3 linked regions of the Homo sapiens genome follow. The protein of the gene in region 3 interacts with the protein of the main gene of each other region in a pairwise test. Each region holds a gene or a part of one and is shown on either strand. Other genes may lie near its edges.

Evidence for each region. Proteins that work in one complex are often made in the same cells at the same time.
Region 1: the proteins of SH3BP2 (region 3) and MYO1F interact in binary tests that used the Homo sapiens proteins (3 or more experiments, as listed by UniProt).
Region 2: the proteins of SH3BP2 (region 3) and HCLS1 interact in binary tests that used the Homo sapiens proteins (3 or more experiments, as listed by UniProt).

What each region holds. Positions count from the first base shown.
Region 1 is NC_000019.10:8,567,420-8,574,447, forward strand, and holds part of MYO1F (unconventional myosin-If), read right to left. Parts: intron 1-7,028. UniProt on the Homo sapiens protein: Myosins are actin-based motor molecules with ATPase activity. Unconventional myosins serve in intracellular movements. Their highly divergent tails are presumed to bind to membranous compartments, which would be moved relative to actin filaments.
Region 2 is NC_000003.12:121,650,881-121,657,908, reverse strand, and holds part of HCLS1 (hematopoietic lineage cell-specific protein), read left to right. Parts: intron 1-556; coding exon 557-630; intron 631-7,028. UniProt on the Homo sapiens protein: Substrate of the antigen receptor-coupled tyrosine kinase. Plays a role in antigen receptor signaling for both clonal expansion and deletion in lymphoid cells. May also be involved in the regulation of gene expression.
Region 3 is NC_000004.12:2,788,650-2,796,084, reverse strand, and holds the start of SH3BP2 (SH3 domain-binding protein 2), read right to left. Parts: upstream 3,001-7,435; 5' UTR 2,947-3,000; intron 1-2,946. UniProt on the Homo sapiens protein: Binds differentially to the SH3 domains of certain proteins of signal transduction pathways. Binds to phosphatidylinositols; linking the hemopoietic tyrosine kinase fes to the cytoplasmic membrane in a phosphorylation dependent mechanism.

The sequences.
Region 1 (7,028 bases), on a different chromosome or scaffold from region 3:
GTGCAGTGGCACGATCTCAGCTCACTGCAACCTCCACCTCCTGGGTTCAAGCGATTCTCCTGCCTCAGCCTCTTGAGTAGCTGGGATTACAGGCGCCTGGCTGATTTTTGTATTTTTAGTAGAGACAAGGTTTTACCGCGTTGGGCACGCTCATCTCGAACTCCCAACCTCAGGTGATCCTCCCACCTCGGCCTCGCAAAGTGCTGGGATTATAGGCGTGAGCCACCGCACCCATCCTGGGTCCATTTTATAGAAGAGAAAACTACAGCACAGAGAGGTTAAGTGTCCTCTTCAAGGACACACAGCAGTGCAGAGAGGACCTTGGGGAGGACCCACGAAGCTGTCCTTCCCCAGGCTGGTCTGTATCAGAGATCGCCGGGGTTGCTGCTGAGGTCAGATGAGGATGGGTTGGGGAGAAGATGGGTCATGTCTACAATTTCCCCTTTGGGGGCCAGTGCAGGCTTCAGCCTGCCAGGCCACTCAGGCTGAACTAAGACCCCAGGCCACTTCCCCTCACTGGGGTCAGCTGTGTCTGGCTAGGCCCATCAGCCCTCCTGGCTCTCCCGGCTCTGACGACTTGGTTCCTCTTCCTGCCCTTCCCCTCTTTCCTCATCTGGCAGAGTGGCCCTCTTCTCTGACCATTCTCTCCCTCTCTATCCTGCCCCAGGCACTAGAGGCCCTCAGACACTCCATGCTCCAGCCACCTGTAAAATCACAGGCTGGGCCGGGCACGGTGGCTCACACCTGTGATCCCAGCACTTTGGGAGGCCGAGGTGGGTGGATCACGAGGTCAGGAGATCGAGACTATCCTGGCTAACACGGTGAAACCCCGTCTCTACTAAAACTACAAAAAATTAGCCAGGTGCGGTGGCGGGCGCCCGTAGTCCCAGCTCCTCGGGAGGCTGAGGCAGGAGAATGGCGTGAACCTGGGAGGCGGAGCTTGCAGTGAGCTGAGATGGTGCCACTGCAGTCCGGCCTGGGTGAAAGAGTGAGACTCCGTCTCAAAAAAAAAAAAAAAAAAAAAAATTAATCACAGGCTGTTTGCATCGAAGGGAGAGAGGGTTTTGCTCAAGTGAATATCGTGTGGGGAGGATAGTCGAGAATTTTGGCATGTGATGGATTGGGGTCAAAGCCTGGCTTGACAGTTGACTGACTGTGTGACTCTGGGGAGGTCACTTCTCTTCTCCAAGCCTCAGTTTCTCCTCTTTGCAAGTGGATTTGGCCGCGCATGGTGGCTCACGCCTGTAATCCCAGCACTTTTGGAGGCGAGGCAGGCAGATCACTTGAGGTCAGGAGTTCAAGACCAGCCTGGCCAACATGGTGAAACCTCATCTCTACTAAAAATACAAAAATTAGCCCGGCGTGGTGGCGGGTGTCTGTAGTCTTAGCTATCCGGGAGGCTGAGGCAGGGGAATTGCTTGAACCTAGGAGGTGGAGGTTGCAGTGAGCCAAGATTACGTCATTGCACTCCAGCCTGGGCAACAGAGCGAGACTCCATCTCAACAACAACAAATAACCAAATGGATTCCATAATGACCCTTGTGTGGGGTCTCTGAAACAAGTACAGGAGCGAACAAAGAGAAAAAATGCGCCGAGATGCCTCAGGAAATGTCATCTGTGACCTTGAGAGGATTTAAGGCATCAGTGTTGGACAGAAAGCCTGGTCAATACATACTTGTTGAATGAATGAATGAATGAATGAAGTCCTATTGGGATGAGACTGCCCCCTGCCCTGTCTCCCAGATATCTCTCTCATTCTGTGGCCTCCAAGTCTCCATGGGTCAAGTCAAAACTGTTTGTTTGTAAGTCTCTTCCTTGGGGGTGGGGATGCAACGAAGAGCTTGTGGTCACAGTTGACCACAAGCTGAATATGACTCAACCTGCTGGAGCTCTTGTGAAAGGCAGTCAGGGGCTTGAGGTGGGTGGGGTAGGAAGGACGGGTAGCTTCTTCCTTCAGCTCTTCAGAGAGGTCTCTCTACCCCAAGGCTGAAGGCAGAACTAGGGCAGGCGGGGACAACCTTCCTGGTATCACACCAGGGAGGGGCTGTTTGTGGTGAAGGTGATGGTGCCTATGGGGCTGGGGGATGTGTGCCATGGAGGGAACACACTTCCTGGGCCCCTACTGTGCATGGAGGTAGGTGGAGACCAGGCTTAGGTGGACCAGGCCCAGAACCTGCCCTTGGGGGGCTCGGTGTTCCCCAAGTGGTGTCTCAGTTGCCCAGAGGAGACCATGGCTGGAAAGTACTGTGGAGAGGTGAGAGGGCTTCCTGTAGAAGGCACGTCTTGCAACATGAACTTTCCAGGCAGCATCAGTGGTGGCTGCAAGAGACATCAGCCAGAGAGGCCTTGGGTGTGTGGTGGACACCAGGATTCTAGTCTGTTTGGAATGGAGGGTCATGGTCCTGGAGGGATAGACAGCCCAGGCCATGTGGGGTCAGCACATAGTCCTGCTGGCCTCTCATTGCTTAGGAGGACAGGAGGCTGTGGTCAAGGTGCCTGTTATTTTTTTTGGACAGAGTCTTGTTCTGTTGCCCAGGTTGGAAGGCAGTGGTTTGATATCACTGCAGCCTTGACCTCCCAGGCTCAAGCGAATCCTCCTGCCTCAGCCTCCTGAGTAGCTGGGACCACAGGTGCATACTACCACGCCTGGCTAATACATTTTTTTTTTTTTGAGATGGAGTCTTGCTCTGTTGTTCAGGCTGGAGTGCAGCGGCATGATCTAGGCTTACTGCAACCTCTGCCTCCCAGGTTCAAGTGATTCTCCTGCCTCAGCCTCCCAAGTAGCTGGGATTACAGGCGTGCACAACGCCTGGCTAATTTTTGTATTTTTAGTAGAGACCAGGTTTCATCATGTTGGCCAGGCTGGTCTCGAACTCCTGACCTCAGGCAATCCACTCATCTCGGCCTCCCAAAGTGCTGGGATTATAGGCGTGAGCCACTGCACCCAGCCACATTTTTTTTTTTATTTGAGATGGAGTCTCGCTCTTGTTGCTCAGTCTGTGAGTGCAGTGGCATGACCTTGGCTCAACCTCTGCCTCCCAGGTTCAAGCAATTCTCCTGCCTTAGCCTCCTGAGTAGCTGGGATTACAGGTGCACGCCACCACACCTGGCTAATTTTTGTGTTTTTAGTAGAGACAGGGTTTCACCACGTTGGCCAGGCTGGTCTTGAACTCCTGACCCCAAGTGATCTGCCCGCCTTGACCTCCCAAAGTGCTGGAATGACGGGCACTGGGATGAGCCACCGCACCCAACCACATTTTTTTTTTTTTAAATAGAGACAAAGTCTAACTATGTTGCTTAGGCTGGTCTCAAACTCCTGGACTGCTGATCCTCTTGCCTTGGCCTCCCAAAGCGCTGGAATTACAGGTGCAAGCCGCTGTGCCCGGCCAAGATGGCTGTTAATAGTGTGGCCTTGGGAGTCACTGAGTCAAAATCCTCTTTCATTTTAGATTGGGCAGCTCACCTAACCTCTCTGCCTCAGTTTCCTCATTCGGAAAATGGGAACATCGAGGGGTGCAAATCTCACAGGCTGCTCTGCAGATTCAACGAAGCAAAGGTTGTCCAGTGTAAATGCTAGCGTTCCTCACTGTCCCCATCAATGGTGGCCATGAGCTGGCCAGGAGGAAGGGCTGGAGGAGGGAGCTTTTGCAACTCACCCCATGGGCTCCAGGCTGTCTGCTTTTTCTGGGCGTGATGAGCAAGAGCTCTAGATTGAAGACAGCAAACAAACAGCCACTTCCTTCCTCACCCAGGTCCTGCGAGCTGTGGTTGCCGGGAGGAGAGCTAAGCCTCCGTAGCTGCTTCTGGAGCCAGCTCTCAGCTCCCAGACCCTGCCCTGGTGCCTGAGGGTGGCCCTGGAGCCTTGCCCCCAGCTCAGTGGGGCTCTGGGGCCACACCCTGCGTCCATGCACTGTGCAAACAACATTCTCACCTCCAAAGGCTCCATCCCTCAGGGGAGCAGGGGGACTGGACTCTGTTTCTTTTCTTTTCTCTCTCTCTCTCTTTTTTTTTTTTAGATGGAATCTCACTCTGTTGCCCAGGCTGGAGTGCAGTGGCATGATCTCGGCTCACTGCAACCTCCACCTCCTGGGTTCAAGCGATTCTCCTGCCTCAGCCTCCCGAGTAGCTGGGACTACAGGCGCCCGCCACCGCGCCCGGCTAATTTTTTTTTTGTATTTTTGTATTTTTATTGTTTTGAGACGGAGTCTTGCTCTCTCACCCAGGCTGGAGTGCAGTGGCGCCATCTCGGCTCACTGCAAGCTCTGCCTCCCGAGTTCACGCCATTCTTCTGCCTCAGCCTCCCAAGTAGCTGGGACTACAGGCACCCGCCACCACGCCTGGGTAATTTTTTGTATTTTTAGTAGAGACGGGGTTTCACCATGTTAGCCAGGATGGTCTCGATCTCCTGACCTCATGATCTGCCCGCCTCGGCCTCCCAAAGTGCTGGGATTATAGGTGTAAGCCACCGCGCCCAGCCCCTGTATTTTTAGAGACGGGGTTTCACTGTGTTAGCCAGGATGGTCTCGATCTCCTGACTTCGTGATCCGCACGCCTCGGCCTCCTAAAGTATTGGGATTACAGGCGTAAGCCACCGCGCCTGGCCTTTATACGTGGGGACCCTTGTCTTTCTGGAGCTGGGCTCTTTGTCTCGTCGCTGGAGATTGCTGACAGTCGGTGGCTACCGTCTCAAACATCTCCACGCAGAAGCTGGAGCTGGGGAACCCTGGTCTTGTCCCTCCTGCTTTTTGGGGAAGATCCTCTGGGATGTGGTCCCCAACCCCCAAGACAGAAACCTGCCTGTCTCTGATTCATTGTTACGTTCACTCTTTGCATCCAATCAATTATGGGCATTTTTTTTTCCCCTCTGAGACAGAGTCTCGCTCTGTTGCCCAAGCTGGAGTGTAGTGGTGCGATCTCAGCTCACTGCAACCTCTGCCTCTCGGGTTCAAGCGATTCTGCTGCCTCAGCCTCCTGAGTAGCTGGGATTACAGGCACATGCCACCCCGCTTGGCTAATTTTTGTATTTTTAGTAGAGATGGGGTTTCACCATGGTGGCCAGACTGGTCTCGAACACCTGACCTCAAGTGATCCACCTGCCTCGGCCTCCTAAAGTGCTGGGATTACAGGTGTGAGCCACTGTGCCCGTGCCCAGTTAGTGGTCTTAACTGATTCTTTCTCCTAAATTCCTTTTGACTCCCAGCCTTTCCTGTCCATCCTCATGGCCACTGATTCTGGACCCAGCAGCCACTTCACTGGTCTCCCTGCTTTGTGGCTGTATCTTATTTATTTGTTTAGAAACAGAGTCTGTCTCTGTTGCTCAGGCTGGAGTGCAGTGGGGCCATCACAGCTCACTGCAGCCTGGAACTCCTGGGCTCAAGTGATCTTCCCACCTCAGCTTCCCAATTAGCTGGTACTACAGGTCCATGCCACCATGCCTGGCTAACTTTTAAATGCTTTGTAGAGATGGGGTATTGCCATGTCTCCCAGGCTGGTCTCGAACATCTGGCCTCAAGTGATCCTCCCACCTCCGTCTTCCAAACTGTTGGGATTACAGGCATGAGCCATTGTTCCTGGCCCTGTGACTGTACCTTAGAAACAATCACTATTGGCCAGGTGTGGTGGCTCACGCCTATAATCCCAGCACTTTGGGAGGCTGAGGCGGGCAGATCACGAGGTCAGGAGATCGAGACCATCCTTGCTAACACGGTGAAACCCCATCTCTACTAAAAAAATAGAAAAAAATTAGCCAGGCATGGTGGCGGGCGCCTGTAGTCCCAGCTACTCGGGAGGCTGAGGCAGGAGAATGGCATGAACCTAGGAGGTGGGGCTTGCAGTGAGCCAAGATCATGCCACTGCACTCCATCCTGGGTGACAGAGCGAGACTCTGTCTCAAAAAAAAAAGAAGAGACAATCACTATTATCCTCACATGACCACCATCACCAACCAAAGGCAACCAGTGAACGTCTTCACTCTCTCTCCTACCCTTCTCAAAGACAAACAGAAACTGCTGATAACTCCAATACCATCATGACTAGCCAATGTCAGACAGGTCCCATGAGCAATTCCAGCATCAGCCTTCCTTACATTCTCCCACGATCACCACCACCACCACCACCACGCTATAATAACCAACCACCATCTAGTCATCGGCCAGGCACAGTGGCTCACACCTGTAATCTCACACTTTGGGAGGCCAAAGCGGGTGGATCACTTGAGGTTAGGAGTTGGAGACCAGCCTGGCCAACATGGCGAAACCCCGTCTCCACTAAAAGCACAAAAATTAGCTGGGTGTGGTGGCAGGTGCTTGTAATCTCAGCTACTTGGGAGGCTGAGGCACGAGAATTGCTTGAAGCCAGGAGGTGGAGGTTGCAGTGAGCCGAGATTGCACCACTGCACTCCAGCCGGGGTGACAGAGCGAGACTCTGTCTCAGAAACAAAACAAAACAAAAAAACAATACTAGCCATCAACAACCACACATAACCAACTACCATTAGCAACCACAGAAAGCAGCAGTCACCAGTCCTATCCTGTTCAAAACCCAACATTGAACCAGCACCACCATTGCTGATCATCATCTTACCAGAAACCAACAATAAACTACCAGCAGCAAATGAACGCTACTACCAACACCTTTCCTCTCCAAATAACAGCAACCACCGATGGTCATCATTCCACTGGTCACCAAGCATCTCCAGAATTTCCAGCTGAAAACAATCCACCACCAACGAACAACATTAAACACCAACCGCCACCACCACCAGCCCACCTGCAAGAGCCATTATCACCACGAACCTGCAACAAGAAACAGCCACAACCACCACCACAACCAATGACACCAACAACCCAGCAATGACCACTCGCAGCAACTCCTCCCCAATTACCACAATCGTCACCTCCGTCCATCCTCATTGCTGAATCCAGAAATGAATGGACATCCCAGCTAATGGCAGCTACCATGGATCAAGTGCATGTTATGTGCTCTGTAAAGCAATGGTCCCCAACATTTTTGGCACCAGAGACCGGTTT
Region 2 (7,028 bases), on a different chromosome or scaffold from region 3:
GGTAGGCATGAAGTAGGCAGAGGAGGAACGGAGGTTTCAGAGCTCACTAGTTTAATTCTTTGTGTTTTCTTGTTTGTTTTTTGAGACAGAGTCTCACTCTGTCACCCAGGCTGGAGTACGGTGGTGCAATCTCAGCTCACTGCAACCTCTGCCTCCCAGGTTCAAGCGATTCTCCTACCTCAGCCTCCCAAGTAGTCCCTGCAGTTGGGACTACAGGTGCATGCCACCACACCTGGCTAATTTTTGTATTTTTTTGGTAGAGATGGGGTTTCACCATGTTGGCCAAGCTAGTCTTGAGCTCCTGACCTAAAGAGATCCACCCGCCTCGGCCTCCTAAAATGCTAGGATTACAGGCATAAGCCACCACGCCTGGCCTCACCAGTTTAATTCTTACATGGGGTCAGGATGGGATAAATATAGAGGGGATGTGAATAAAGACCCAGACTGAAGAAGGCAGTGGACACAGGGGACATGGAGGGCATGTGTCAGTTGGGTGGCCCTTCTCAATGTGGCACATTTCTTGCCGTCATGTATTACTGCGTGCTGTCGTTTGCAGAATGACATCTCTGAAAAGGAGCAACGATGGGGAGCCAAGACCATCGAGGGGTCTGGACGCACAGAACACATCAAGTAGGTGCCGAAAGGACTGGAGAAAAGGAAGGGGGTTATGGGAAGAGCCCAAAGAAAACTCGGAGACTTGGGGGAAGGTGAGGGAGGAAAAGGATAGGGTAGTTCATGTCTATGTATTATTGTGTTTGTTTTTTTTCTAGAGTCTGTTCCTGTGTGTACCTGTGTGTCATTGCATATTTCCATTTTATGTCTCTCCTCTTACCCTCCTCAACCCTATTATCTATCTTTTATACCTAACAACTCTGCTATTTCCCCAAGTGGGTCTATTGGATTAACTGCCTCCCTTCCTTTAGTAAGGCATGAGAGATTCATAGAGGAAGTGGACCAAATACTAAGGTCCTCTCTATCTATCTACCTGGCAATCATCTATCTCCTATCTATCTCTTCAGATAAATGTAAATATGTATTTAGAATTCAGGGTGACTTCCTTCAGATGAACTAAGAACAATTCAGTAAAATGTCAAGGTGAAGAACTCAGAATAAATGCTATAAAAAGAGGCCACTTCAGCTCCCATAACTGGCCCAAATAACTTTTAAAATACAGATTTGTACTTAGCTATTTGACAGAAGTTGGAAGCCATGAATGGTAATATGAAGAAATGTAACACTTGGAAAACCTGTTGATAAAAACTATTTTGGCAACGATGTTCAGGGATCTTTAAGATTATAGCCCCATATGCATTTTACCAGAAACAAACAAACAAACAAAACCCTCCGATACCAGAAGATAAAAGGAACTTACAGACATATCCAGGGGTTTCTGTGGGATATGTCATACATTCAGGCTGAGAGATCCCCTTCTCTCTTCCACGGATGATTCAGGATCATCTAACCAGGACCATCTGCTTTGGATAGTATCAGAATGTCAAACATTAGTAGCAAGGTAGACACAATAAATAGTGTAACAAGCAAAAATTCAACAACTACACACAAAATGGCAAGATTAATACAGTTTTAAGCTCCATTTTTAACTCCCCCTACCGCACCCTAAAAGCAGTGTTTTTACCTCTAGATTTTAAAAAGTGTCAGTGGATGACCACATTGCACAAGCAACATACTGTGAAAGCCTGGCACAAGTTTCTACAACTGGATGACAATACCACATTGTTTAATCAGAAATAAATGGTTTCGGCCGGGCGTGGTGGCTCACGCTTGTAATCCCAAAACTTTGGAAGGCCGAGCGAGGAAGATCACTTGAGGTCAGGAGTTCAAGACCAGCATGGGCAACATGATGAAACCCTGTGTCTACTAAAAATACAAAAATTAGATGGGCGTGGTGGCGGGCACCTGTAATCCCAGCTACTCAGGAGGCCGAAGCACGAGAGTCTCTTGAACCCAGGAGGCACAGGTTGCAGTGAGCTGAGATCGCACCACTGCACTCCAGCCAGGGTGATAGAGCGAGACTCAGTCTCAATAAATAAATAAATAAATAAATAAATAAATAAATAAATAAATGGTTTCAATTAAGTAGCTATAATGAATATTATTCTTAAACCATGCCATTCTGGAAAAAGATTGAAACAATGGAACAGGGTCATTCAGGAAGCTTCTGTGATACCCCTCTATAGACTCATAGATCAAAAAAAAAAAAAAAAAAACCACAAGACCCTTTTCCTTTTCTGAATAAAGGCCACTCAACGCTGGTATTCTGGGAATTGTCCAGATGAGGATGCACACTTCATGCCTTTGGTGGTATTGTAGCCAATGAGGTTTATCCGAGGTGTGATTATTGCTAATTGAAAACTTCCCAACACTCCGCCATGACGACTTGCAATATAGTAGGCATTGGCAAAAAAAAAAAAAAAAAAAAAAAAAAGAGCAAGCAACCCTCATAAAAAAATGAAATAACTTAAAAAAAAATAGCCACCCTGAAGATGTATAGTTACAGGTCAATGGGATAGCCAATGTCTAATGCAGTACTTAGCACTTCTGAGCAGCTCAGTGATGTTAGTTTTGTTTCCTGTTAATATAGGTTAGTTTAATCAGATTTCCTTTCTAAAATCTAACAAACATGTAAACAGACAACAGCCCTTTTTTCTCCTAAGTGGTGTCTACCTGGACTGTTGGATTGCACAACTCCTATACACAGATCACTCTGACGGGTGCTGCCTGGAGTGGTACAACATGGTGACCCTGCACATTTCCTTGTTAACCTAACTGAATCTATCAGATAGAATAAACGATGGAGATATTGACAAAAAAATCTCGCTCATCTCCCATTTACCCAGGTTATCAAGGAGTGAAAGCCTGGTATCTGCTGGTAACAGGCCAGGTGGCTTTAGACAAGTCCCTTTTCCTCTCTGATTCTCATTTTGCCCATCTGGATCAAAAAGACCTCTAGAGGACTTTCCAGTAGTAAGTCTCCACTATTTGGGGATTCCCTCTCGTTAGTGTGGGCTAAGTCAGTCTTTAACATCTGATGGGAATCACCATGGTCCTTGGAAAGGAGAGGGAAATTGGAGAGGAGAACAGTAGCTGTAGATGCTAACACTGACAGATCCCAAAATGAAAAAACAAAAAACAAACAAACAAAACAAAACAGTAGCTGTAGAGCTGAGACGACTAAAAGCAGGAAAAGGAAGTGGTTGCAGTTCTTACTAATCTTACTACCTTCCCCACACCGTGATGTCTCTTTTTAGGTCTGTCTTGAATAAATTTAGTTTGGATAGTAATTTGGTAATTCAGTGAATAATTCAAATGGTCCTATGCATCCCTTATCCATTCTGTAAAGGAACTGCCTGGTTTTCAAGAACTATCACCCTTCTCTCCACCTTCTTTTCTCCACTCTTGCCCATTCATTCTCAAGACTCAAGGGTGTCTTTTCCCTTGACCTGTTTGTTTATTTTCAAATCTGTCACAGACTGATACTTTTGTAAAATAAAATACAATTAAGTTTCTGGAAAAATAAATGGTTAAAAATAACATAGACAATACAAACACAGTTTTTATTTTTAAATTCAACAGATATAAAATCACGATGTTGTCAGGCATGCTAGTCTGTGCCTATAGACCCAACTACTCAGGAGGCTGAGGCAGGAGGATCACTTGAGTCCAGTAGTTCTGGGCTATAGTGCTCTATGCTGATTGGGTCTCCACGCTGAATTCTGAATCAATATAGTGACCTCCCACCTCCCAGGAGCAGGGGACCATAGGTTGCCTAAGAAGGGGTGAACTTGCCCAGGTCAGAAATGGAGCAGGTCAAAACTCCAGTGCTGATCAGTAGTGGGATTGTGTCTGTGAGTAGCCACTGTACTCCAGCCTGGGCAACAGTGAGACCCCATTTCTAAAAAAGAAAAAGAAAAAGAATAAAATCACTATGTCAAATTGCTATAAAAGTTTCTAAACACATATTCTCAATTTTTATTCTTATTTCCCTGTGAAACAGAAACAGTTCAGCTTGTGGACCACACACTGAGTGGCACTGCTCTGGAATAATCTTTCAGCACTTCCTGGAACCAGTCTGGCCTTTAGATTAAATCTTTACTGAGCTATAACCATAGGATGTCTGCCTCAGTGGCCCTGTCCTCTTCTCGTGCCCTGACATTTTATAGCAAGTGGAAATAAAGAATGGTGTAATGCCAAGAGTATAGAAATAGAATTCTGGAGCTCTAGGGACTGATTCCAGCTCTGCTGTAAAAAGGCTTATGATGCTGAGGAGAGTAATAATATTTTACCATCCTATCTTGATTTCCAGCGCTGACTGGAGATTATAGTACCATCCCTGTTTACCTCACAGGGGTACTGGGAAGAGCCATGGCTATAACTTAAGAATAATGACTAACATTTATTAAGCTATTATATGTCTTGCAAAACACAGAGTACTTTTTAAAAACAATCCTATATCATAGATGACGTTGGCATCCTGATTTCACAGAAAAGTGAATGGATATATTAATGTTTAGCAATTTGTCCGAGGATACAGAGATACAGGTTGAGCATCCCTAATCCAAAAATTCAAAATCTAAAATGTTCCAAAATCTGAAATTTTTGAAAGCCCACATGATACCACAAGTAGAAAATTCCACACCTGACTACATGTGATGGGTCTCAGTCAAAATACAGGTGCACAACAGTTTTTTCAGCGTCCCCAAGGGAAAAATAAAGTTACCTTCATTTATTTAGTTCTTCTTTAATACCTTCCTTAATATAGTGTATATGACACATAAATGAATTTCCTGTTTACACATGGGTCTCGTCCCCAAGATATCTCATTATGTATATGCAAATATTCCAAAACCTGAAAAAATCCTGAATCCAAAACACTTCTGGTCCCAAGCGTTTGGGATGAGGGATAGTCAACCTGTAGTAATTTGAATTCGGCTCAGTCTGACTCCATGGGCTGAAATCTTAACCAATATATTGTTTTTGTCTAATAAACATAATATCGTCATGTCCGTAATTCTTTTGTTGAAATGAAATGCAAATTCCCATGAACTAAGCTATTGCCAATTCCCTAAGGCTGCTTGCTATTCTGTTTACAGTGACAAAGTACTTGATAAGTTGGCCTTAATAATACTACAATCACTTCATAAACAAACCTCTTTATGAGTGCCCAAAGTCTCTTTCATTTAAGGTTTTCTTCACTTTATTATTTTTCAAAAATTAACTTTGTTTTTTTTGAGACGGAGTTTCGCTCTGTCATCCAGGCTGGAGTGCAGTGGTACGATCTCGGCTCACTGAAACCTCCGCCTCTGCCTCCCAGCTTCAAGTGATTCTCCTACCTCAGCTTCCCGAGTAGCTGGGATTACAGGCATGTGCCACCTTGCCCAGCTAATTTGTGTATTTTTAGTAGAGACGGGGTTTAACCATGTTGGCCAGACTGGTCTTGAACTCCTGACCTCAAGTGATCCGCCTGCCTCGGCCTCCTACAGTGCTGGGATTACAGGTGTAAGCCACCATTGCCCAGGCAAAAATTAAATTTATTGATACCTAATCATTATAAGCAAATAGTTCAATGAGTTTTGACTATATATATATAATATAACCACCAATGCAATCAAGATATAGAATATATCTATTACCATGAAAATTTCCCTGCACCTCTTTGCAGTCAATACACCCCATACTGATCTTTTTGTCACTATAGATTAGTTTTGTCTGGCATAGAATTTCATGCAAACAGAATAATATAGAATGTATTGTTTTGTGTTGTCTTCTTTCAGCATAATGTTTTCCAGATTTATCCATGGTGTTGTGTATATAAGTCTTTTGTTCTTTTATATTGTCATGTAGTGTCCCATTGTATGGATATGTCACAGTTTTATTATTCATTATCCTGTCAATAGCCATTTGGATTATTGACAATTTGGATCTATTACAAATGAAACTGTCATGGGCATTTGGGTACAAATCTTTTTGTTGACATATCCTTATTTCTCTTGGAAAATTGCCAGGAGTAGAATTGCTGAGTCATATAATAAGTGTATGTTAAACATTTTGAGAGACTCTCAAACTCTTTTCCAAAGGGAATTTACCCTCTTTCATTCCTACCAGTAATGTGTGGGTTTCAGATGCTCCACATTTTTGTCAACATTTGTTATTGTTAGTATTTTTAAATTTAGCTGGGTGCAGTGGCTCATGCCTGTAATCCCAGCACTTTAGGAGGCCAAGGCAGGAGGATGACTTGAGCCCAGGAGTTCAAGACCATCTGGACAATGTGGAGAGATTCAGAGTCTACAAAAAAATTAAAAATTGGCTGGCTGTGGTCTGAGCTATTCAGGAGGCTGAGGCAGGAGAAGCACTTGAGCCCAGGGGGTTGAGGCTGCAGTGAGCCATGTTTGCCCCACTGCACTCCAGCCTGGGTGACAGACTGAGATCCTCTCTAAAAGACAAACAAAACAAAACAACAACAACAACAACAAAACCAACTTAACCACTCTTTTAAGTTAATTTGAATTTCTCTGATGACCAGTTTTATTGAGTATATTTTCATTTGCCATTCATATATCTTCATATATCTTCTTTATGAAGTATCTGTTCACATCTTTTTCTCACTTTTAAAGTGAGTTGTTTGTCTTTTTATTAAGTTGCTGAAAGTTCTTTATATATTCTGGATGTAAGTCTTTTGTGAAATATGTGTTTTACAAGTGTATTCTCCCAGAACATAACTTGCTTTTTCACTTTATTGATTGATTGATTGATTATTTATTGATTGATTGCTCTGTTGCCCAGGCTGGAGTGCAGTGACATGATCTCAGCTCACTGCAACCTCTGCCTCCTGGGTTCAAGCGATTCTGCTGCTTCAGCCTCCTGAGTAGCTGGGACTCAGGCGCCCACCACCAAGCCCAGCTAATTTTTGTATTTTTGGTAGAGACGGGGTTTCACCATAGTGGCTAGGCTGGTCTTGAGCTCCTGACCTTGTGATCCACCCGCCTTGACCTCCCAAAGTGCTGAGATTA
Region 3 (7,435 bases):
GGGCCAGTCCCTTGCTCTTGGCACCATCCTGTCTACCCTCCCGTGCACAGGCCAAGGGGTGGTGAGGAGGGTCCAGTGCCCCAGGGAAGGGGGCCAGCCAGTGAGCCTGAAATGCTCCCTACCACCCCCTCTGGGACTTAGGCAGCCCACACGTGGGACTGTCTCCAGCCCCTCGGTGTCCAGACAGGGCCACCAGAAGAATGCAGAGGCCTTCTGGGGAGGAGCCGCCTATCCTGGAGGAAGGATTCCAGGGTCTGCACGGCCCCTTCTCCTTGCCTCCCAGGCCCCTCCATACCCTCACCACACCTGGCATGCAAAGGCCACTCCCGTCAAACTGGTCTCCCACCCTCCCTACCGCCCGCCTTTGGCTTAGTCTGTCTGTACCTGCATGGCTGCCCGCCCGGCTCAGATCCCTCCTCCTGACGGCCCACCCTGTATTCATTGGCCCGAGGGGTGGGAGCCGCTCCACTGCGTCTGGGGTAGGACAGCTCTCACCTTGTGGCAAATTCCCCGTCTTTTCCCCGCCAGCCTGCCCTTCTCCTCACCCACCCAGGCTGCACAGTGATGGCCAAGCCACCCGGTTATTAAAGAACTATATACTCTGCCAGGCGTGGGGGCTCACGCCTGTAATCCCAGCACTTTGGGAGGTGGGCAGATCATGAGGTCAAGAGAGGACAGAGAGTGAGGAGGGCAGAGCCTGCCACACATAGTCACTGACCTGGGGTGTCCCCACAAGGGAGCTTTTGAGGACAGAACGCAGGAAGACCCAGGGGCTGCCCAACACTGGCCACTCCTGATGGACTCAGGCCTTAGTCCAATGTGGGCAGGAACCTGGGAGCCTTGGCCTTTACCCAGGCCTCTCCAGGCCAGTCCCTGCCCCCACCCAAAACAGGACATACAGCGGCCCTGAGGACCAGGGAGAGCACCCTCAGCGACCCACTGTCACTGAATACCAAGCACATGTCACCACCACCACCATCCCCCCTACGGACACTCATAGCCACCCACCAGGTACAAAGTGCTTCACAGCCCTCAGGTCATGGATGAGAAAACGGAGGGGTGGCAGGGGGAAGCCTCCTGGCCATGATCACACAGCTGGAAACTGGTGGCATCTGAGTTCACACCCAAGATCCTGGCTGAGTTTGCGCCCTTCCTCCCTGCCCCTCAGGAACCAAGGCTGGCCATCTCGTCTCTCTGGGCCCCTGGACTTCCCGTCTGTGGGCCTGCTTGTGTGCGTGCATCCCTGGGGGGTGGGGAGCTCCAGCTGACTCAGCACCCTGCTTCCTCTGTCCATGTGGGCAGAAAGGGCCAAGGCAGGCCCAGAGCCTGTCCTCCCTCTGTCTGCCTCTTCAGGCCAGCCTCCTTGGTGGGCTCCCCCATGATCCTGGAGGCCTGGGGACTCCCTGAAAGGCCAGGTCCCCTGTCAGCACCCCTCTCACCAGATGGCCCTGGCTGGCAGTTCCTAGACACGGCTGCCTATCTGTCTTCCTTCTGCCTGCCCCCTCCAGGGTGTGCCTAACGCAGGGCACAGAGCCAGGCAAAGGGAGCCTGGCGGGTGGCAGGGAGAGGGGATAGACAGAATCCTCACTCCCTTGCAGCCCTCGTCCCAGGCCTCCTGTCCTGCCAGGAGTGGAGTGCCTGGAGTGGGGCCCTGAGGTTGGGCTCCAAGAGGGCCCTTCGACGGTGTCTACGTAGAGGAGACAGTGGACAGAGTGGGAAGAACCAGGAGGGGGTGGAGCCCAGCCCCTCCTCTGGTCCCACAGGGCCTGAGCCAGTGAGGGCAGGAGCTTGTCCAGGCTCATGGAGTTGGTGCAGGGCTGACCTGAACCCAGAGGCTTGCTTCGGCAAGGAGGAGGCTGTGGGCCCTGCCTTCAGGCGGTTGTGGAAACAATTCTACACATTGCATCACCGGCCCATGTCACCTGCAAGGCCACACACATGTCATCCAGGCAGGCTGTCCACCCCAGCAGCCCACACGGAGTACCCGCCCCTGGCCACAGCCAATTCGAAGGACTTAAGTGTGGCCACTAGACCAGGAGGCACAGCTGTCCCCAGTGTCAACAGATGAGCAAACTGAGGCACAGAGAGGGGATAGGAGGTGCTCACGGAAAGGAGCACCAGCAGAAGGCTCCCCACAGCAGGGCTCAGGCCCTCAATACCCCCAGGGAGCCGAGGCCCAGAGCAGCGGGAAAGTGCTGGGCTGCAGGGAGGCCAGCGTACAGGTGGAAGGGGCTGTCCCCGCCCCCTAACTCCTCCAGTCCCTCTGCCACCCCTGAGATTCCCTGTTGCCCATGAGAGTCTCAGACGCCCGGCTATCAGTCACTCACACTTCAGTGTGAATCAGCGCCAGTGGGCGGCTTTTCTTGCCCTCCGTGAAGCGCGGCCGCTGCAGAGGGAAGTTTGGATTCCGGGAAGGGCGGAGAGCGAGTGCCCGCCGCAGCCTTTGAGTCTTGTGGGGAGGGTCGCGTAAAGGGGCCCCGCCGCGGGGCCAGAGGGGCGCGAGGGGTGCGAAACAGACGCGTCGCACCGCCTCCCACCCCTGAGCCCCCGGCAAGGGACACCCGGCCCCCGCCCCGAAGCCGCGCTCCCTCGGGCACTGCCCGCCGTGCCCAGGCCCCGTGCGTCCTTTGGCAAGGACACGGAGGCCCCGGGGCCCGGGGGAGGCTGCTGCGCACCCGAGACCCCCGACACCCGCCCATACCTGCCGGGACCCTGAGACTCCCCCGAGACCTGCCAAGACCTGCCGGGACCCCTGAGACTCCCCGGAGACTCCCCCGAGACCCCCGAGACCCGCCGAGACCTGTCGGGACCCCGAGACTCCCCCGAGACCCCCGAGACCCGCCGAGAGCCCCCAGACCGCCAAGGCCCGCCGAGCCCCTTCCAGACGCGGAGACCGCCCCCCCGCGAGACCCCCGAGACCCGCCGAGACCCGCCGCCGAGGCTTACCCGCCGAGCGCTCTCCTGGCCCGCGGGCCCTGGGTCGAGGCGGCGGCTTGACTCGGCCGCCAGGCGCTCCCGCCCGCGGGACCCGCCGCCGCCGCAGCTCCGTCCCGCCCGCGCCCGCCCAGTCCGCCCTCCTCCTGGCCCCGCCCCGGCCCCGCCCCTCCCCGGCGGGTCCCGCAATCCTGGAGGTCCGAGCTGGGCGTGGGGCGGGGCCGGTACCTCAGGGTGGGCGGGGAACTGCACGTGGCCTCCGCGGCCCCGGGACGAGGCCCCTGGGGGGCGAAGACTGGCGTTGTCGCGGGCCTAGACGCCGGGTCCACAGTAGGTGCTTAGTTCTCGCCCGTGAGTGAGGTAGCGTGTCTGTCCCTCCTGCGTGTCCCTCCCAGTGACACCCCAGTGCCCAGCGACCCAGGTGGAAAGGGCGCTGTCCACCCCCCCAGCCCCGTGGTCCTGATCCTGGGCGGCCCCACCCCTGCCCCGTGAGTGCGACTTAGGCCCTGGCCAAGACAGGAGCAGGGGAGGTGGGGGAGGGCTTGCTGGGCACCAGGAAACCTTGTCTTTGTTTCCAAATGTCCTCCAGGGTACTTTTCAGGCACTTCCCAGGGGGACCTCGCCTCTTGGACCAGGTCTGGACTCCGGTGGCCCAGAGGTCGTCTTGGGGCTGGGAGGCACAGGAGACCGGGTGCTTTACACTTGGCCTCCTCTGAGGCTCCCTTTCCTCCACCATCACCCTCTCCCTAAGAGTAGGCCCAGATGCCTTGGTGTAAGGGCAGGGGCGAGAAGAGGAGGGGCTTCCTGGGAGGAAATGGCTTCCCTGGGGAGCTCTCAGGGCCAGGTAGGTGGAGGGAGCCGTGGAGAAAGTGAAGAGGCTGGGGAGACCAAGCTGGGCCTGCAGAGCTTGAGGGCGAGCGGACCCCCCACCAGTGCGGGAGTCAACTGCTTGGGGCGTGGGGGGACTCCTCCCCATGAGGAGTGGGGACTGGACCCCAGGTCCCAGAGCCCAGGAAGCTGTGAGTAGAGGAAGGACAGGATCTTGCTGGGAACCCAAGGGAGCTGGGGGTGGGTGGTGGTGACCTGGCCCTGTCCAGGCAGGCGGCCAAGGTCTGACCCTCTGTACTGAGCACAAGAGGCCAGAGTCCAATGACAGGGGCTGAATTGGCTGCTCCAAATCAGGCAGGGGCAGGGGTGTCCAGGGCTGGCCCTGCAGCAGGTGAAGGACTGGGTTTGGGTCCTACAGGTTGAAATACCTGAGGGCCTCCAGGAGACACAGCCAAACCAAGCGGGTTCTCAGGGTTGCAGCTGGACCGAGTGTGGGCCAAGTCACCGTCCACCTGTCCCAGAGCTGCCCAATAATGGGTCCCAAGCCTCAGAAAGGGGATCCCTGGCTGCAATAGCCCTCCTCCCTGCTGGAGAGACACACTTGGGATCAGAGAGGTTAACTGGGGAGGGGAGTAAGTGGGAGGAGTCAGAAAACTAGGTGGCCAGGCCCTGAGCCCAGGCATAGAGGAAGAGCCAGTGCCTACCAGGAAGTGACCAGGACCAAGGCAGGGCCTCTGGAAGGGAAGGGACAAAGCAGGGGATGGCAGAGGCAGGGGAGGATATGGGAGAGTCTTCAGACAACAGGGCCCCTTTTCCCCATCTGTGAAATGGAGGGGGTCCTCTACTGGGGAGGCGGCAGAAGTGGATGGGGCATGACAGCAGGCAGATACTCACTCTACCTGGCCCAGGGCCACCCCTCACACCGGCGCTGGGGCTGTGACTCTACCCACCTACAGCCTAGCTCTCGGGGCTGAACTTAGACCCCAGTGAGGGAGTAGATGGGTGCTGGCTGGCTGGGGTGCTCACTCTCTGGGGTGCCTGCTCACATCCCCACCTGTAAGTGTCCTGGGCCTGGCTCCCCAGGTCTCAACTCTGCTCATCCCAGCATTGGGTAGCCTGCAACTCTTCTGCCCACCCCCCACTCTGGGCTATTTCACATTTTCCTAGCAGGGAGGAAGAGATAGGAACTACAGCCATTGTGGAAGTGGCTGGGCTCAGCCCCATCCGACGTTCAGTGCTGCCACTGTTAGCACCGCATGGGGCTGCGTCACTCCTGTAAGAGGCCACATGCGGAGGGAGCTCCAGGCTGGGCCAGACTGGTCTAAGGCTCCTGACAAAACACTCATGACCTTGGGGCTGTACATCTTGATGTCCCTGATGTCCAGTTCAGCTAAATAAATGCCTGGCCCCACACCAGACCCCGGGGACCCAAGATGATACAAGGAAGTCCCTACCCTTGTGGCTCACGAGAGGAGCAAATGGACAAATGAGCAGATGCCATTGGGTCACAGCAAGTGTCCTGTTCCCAGGGGACCAGCTGGGGAAAGGGGCAGAGACCGGGAGGGGAGTGGAGCAAAGCCAAACGTCGGTGCGGCCCCGCCAGGGCCTGACTACAGGGCAGGGTGTACAGGGCTGGCCTCAGATGCCAAGCTCAGAGTTGACGGAGCAGGGTCACTGCAGACAGTGTGGACGGACCAGGCGCCTAGAGAATGATCACCCAGAAATGCAAAGCACCTCTGTGCAGGGCACCTCAGCCAAACAGGGGGAACAGGGTGCAGCCTCCACCGTGGGGAGAATCCCACACCTCATATTCCTCCCCTTCTCCCCCCTTACCAGTCCAACCCCAGGGCGTGGGAGGAAGGAACTCCTAGTTGGGGCCTCAGGGCAGCTCCCAGCAGCCCCTCCGAGCAAGAAGCTGCTGGAGGCTGTGGCCAGAGCCTCTGGGCACCCAGGGGTTCCGCTGAGGCTGACAGAGCAGGGATGGGTGAGGAGGATGACCTCGCCTGCTGGGAGGGTATGCAGGGCAGGTGAGCAGAGGTAAGGCGAGGACCCCTGGCCGGCAGGGAGCTGGGGAGCAGACCTCCACAGGGCACATCCGGGGTAGAAGCCCATGGTGATGCCCCAATCACACCCACAGAATAAGGCCAAAGAGAAGGGGGCCGGTCCCCCGCCACACCCATCCCCCGTGTGCCATCGGCCATGCCACTGATTTGGCAGGACCCAGAACAGGCAGAGGCAGCTGCTGTCTGGGGGGTAGGGCAGGACCTGCTGAGGGTGAGGCTGACGGTTAGGATGGCGAGGGCAAGATCTGCCGCTGGTCTACGTGTCACAGGCGTCCCAGCAGGGGGCTTCATGCGCCTGCCAAGTCTCTTTTTCCTTCCCTGGGCCAGCAACCCTGGAGTCGTCCGCACTGATGCCTCTCTGCTCGCCCCACATCCCGTCCGCCCTGAAGGTTCTGTTGGCAAAGCACACCTGGAATCCTGCCTTTCTCAGCCCCTGCCTGCCTCATCCTCCCTCTCCTGCGCTTGCCTGGCAGTGTCCATCATCACACCAGAGGGGTGCAGTCACAGTGTGAGTCAGGTCATGTCACTTCTTCACTCAGAACTTTCTGTAGATCCCACCTCCCCCAAGGCAAATGCCTTCTATCCTTGCATGGGCAGGGCCCAGACCGAGCCTGTGCCACCTGCCTGCTCCCTGAGTTCTCTCTCCATAGCCCCGCTTAGCATTGGCCACACTGGCCTCCTGTCTCCTCCAGCACCGCAGACACATTCCCACCTCAGGGCCTTTGCACTTGCCATTCCTGCCCCTAGATCACCCTTGGCGGGTGTGCCTGGACCCCTCGCTTCCCTTGGTCTGGGCTCTGCTTCCAGGGCACCTGAGTTACAAAATAGACTCCCAGTGCATGATTGGTGAATGAACAGACAAAGGCCTCAAGGGGCAGCCCCAAGGAAGGGGCTAGGTAGGTTTTGTTTTTGTTCTTTTGTTTTGAGATAGGGTCTCACTCTGTTGCCCAGGCTGGAGTGCAGTGGCACTGCAGCCTCAACCTCCTGGGCTCAGGTGAGCCTCCCACCTCAGCTGGGACTATAGGCATGTGCCACCACACCCAACTAATTTTTATTTATTTATATTTTTTATTTTTTTGTAGAAATAGCGTCTCACCATGTTGCCCAGACTGGTCTCGAACTACTGGGCTCAAACGATCCACCCACCTCAGCTCCCAAAGTGCTGGGATTACTGGCATGAGCCACTGTGCCCATCCTAGCCAGGTTTTGGAGCTGCCACCTGGGTCCCGTGTCCAGAGGACCTTGGAAGCATGGACCCTGCCCTCCCACCTGTCCCTGTCCCCAGGAGTGGCCCCACAGTGATACAGTGTACCACCTCACCAGGCCGCCTCGCTAGGAGAGGCAATTCCTGAGTAGGGCCAAGGCCACAGGCTTCCCACCTGCTTCCCTGGGGATAGGAGGGGACAGGTTCCCACCCTACCTCCCCCAATCCCCACTCCCTGGGGGAGGCTGTGTGGAGTCATCCTGCCACACAGTCCAGTCCCCTGGCCACACAGCCCAGCACTGGAGGGAGGGGCAGAGGGGGTGTGGGGGAGGATTGTGGCTCATGGGAAGAGGAGTTTGAGGAGGCAGGCTGGGCCTCACACGCAGGCATCAGTCTGGCTCTGAGG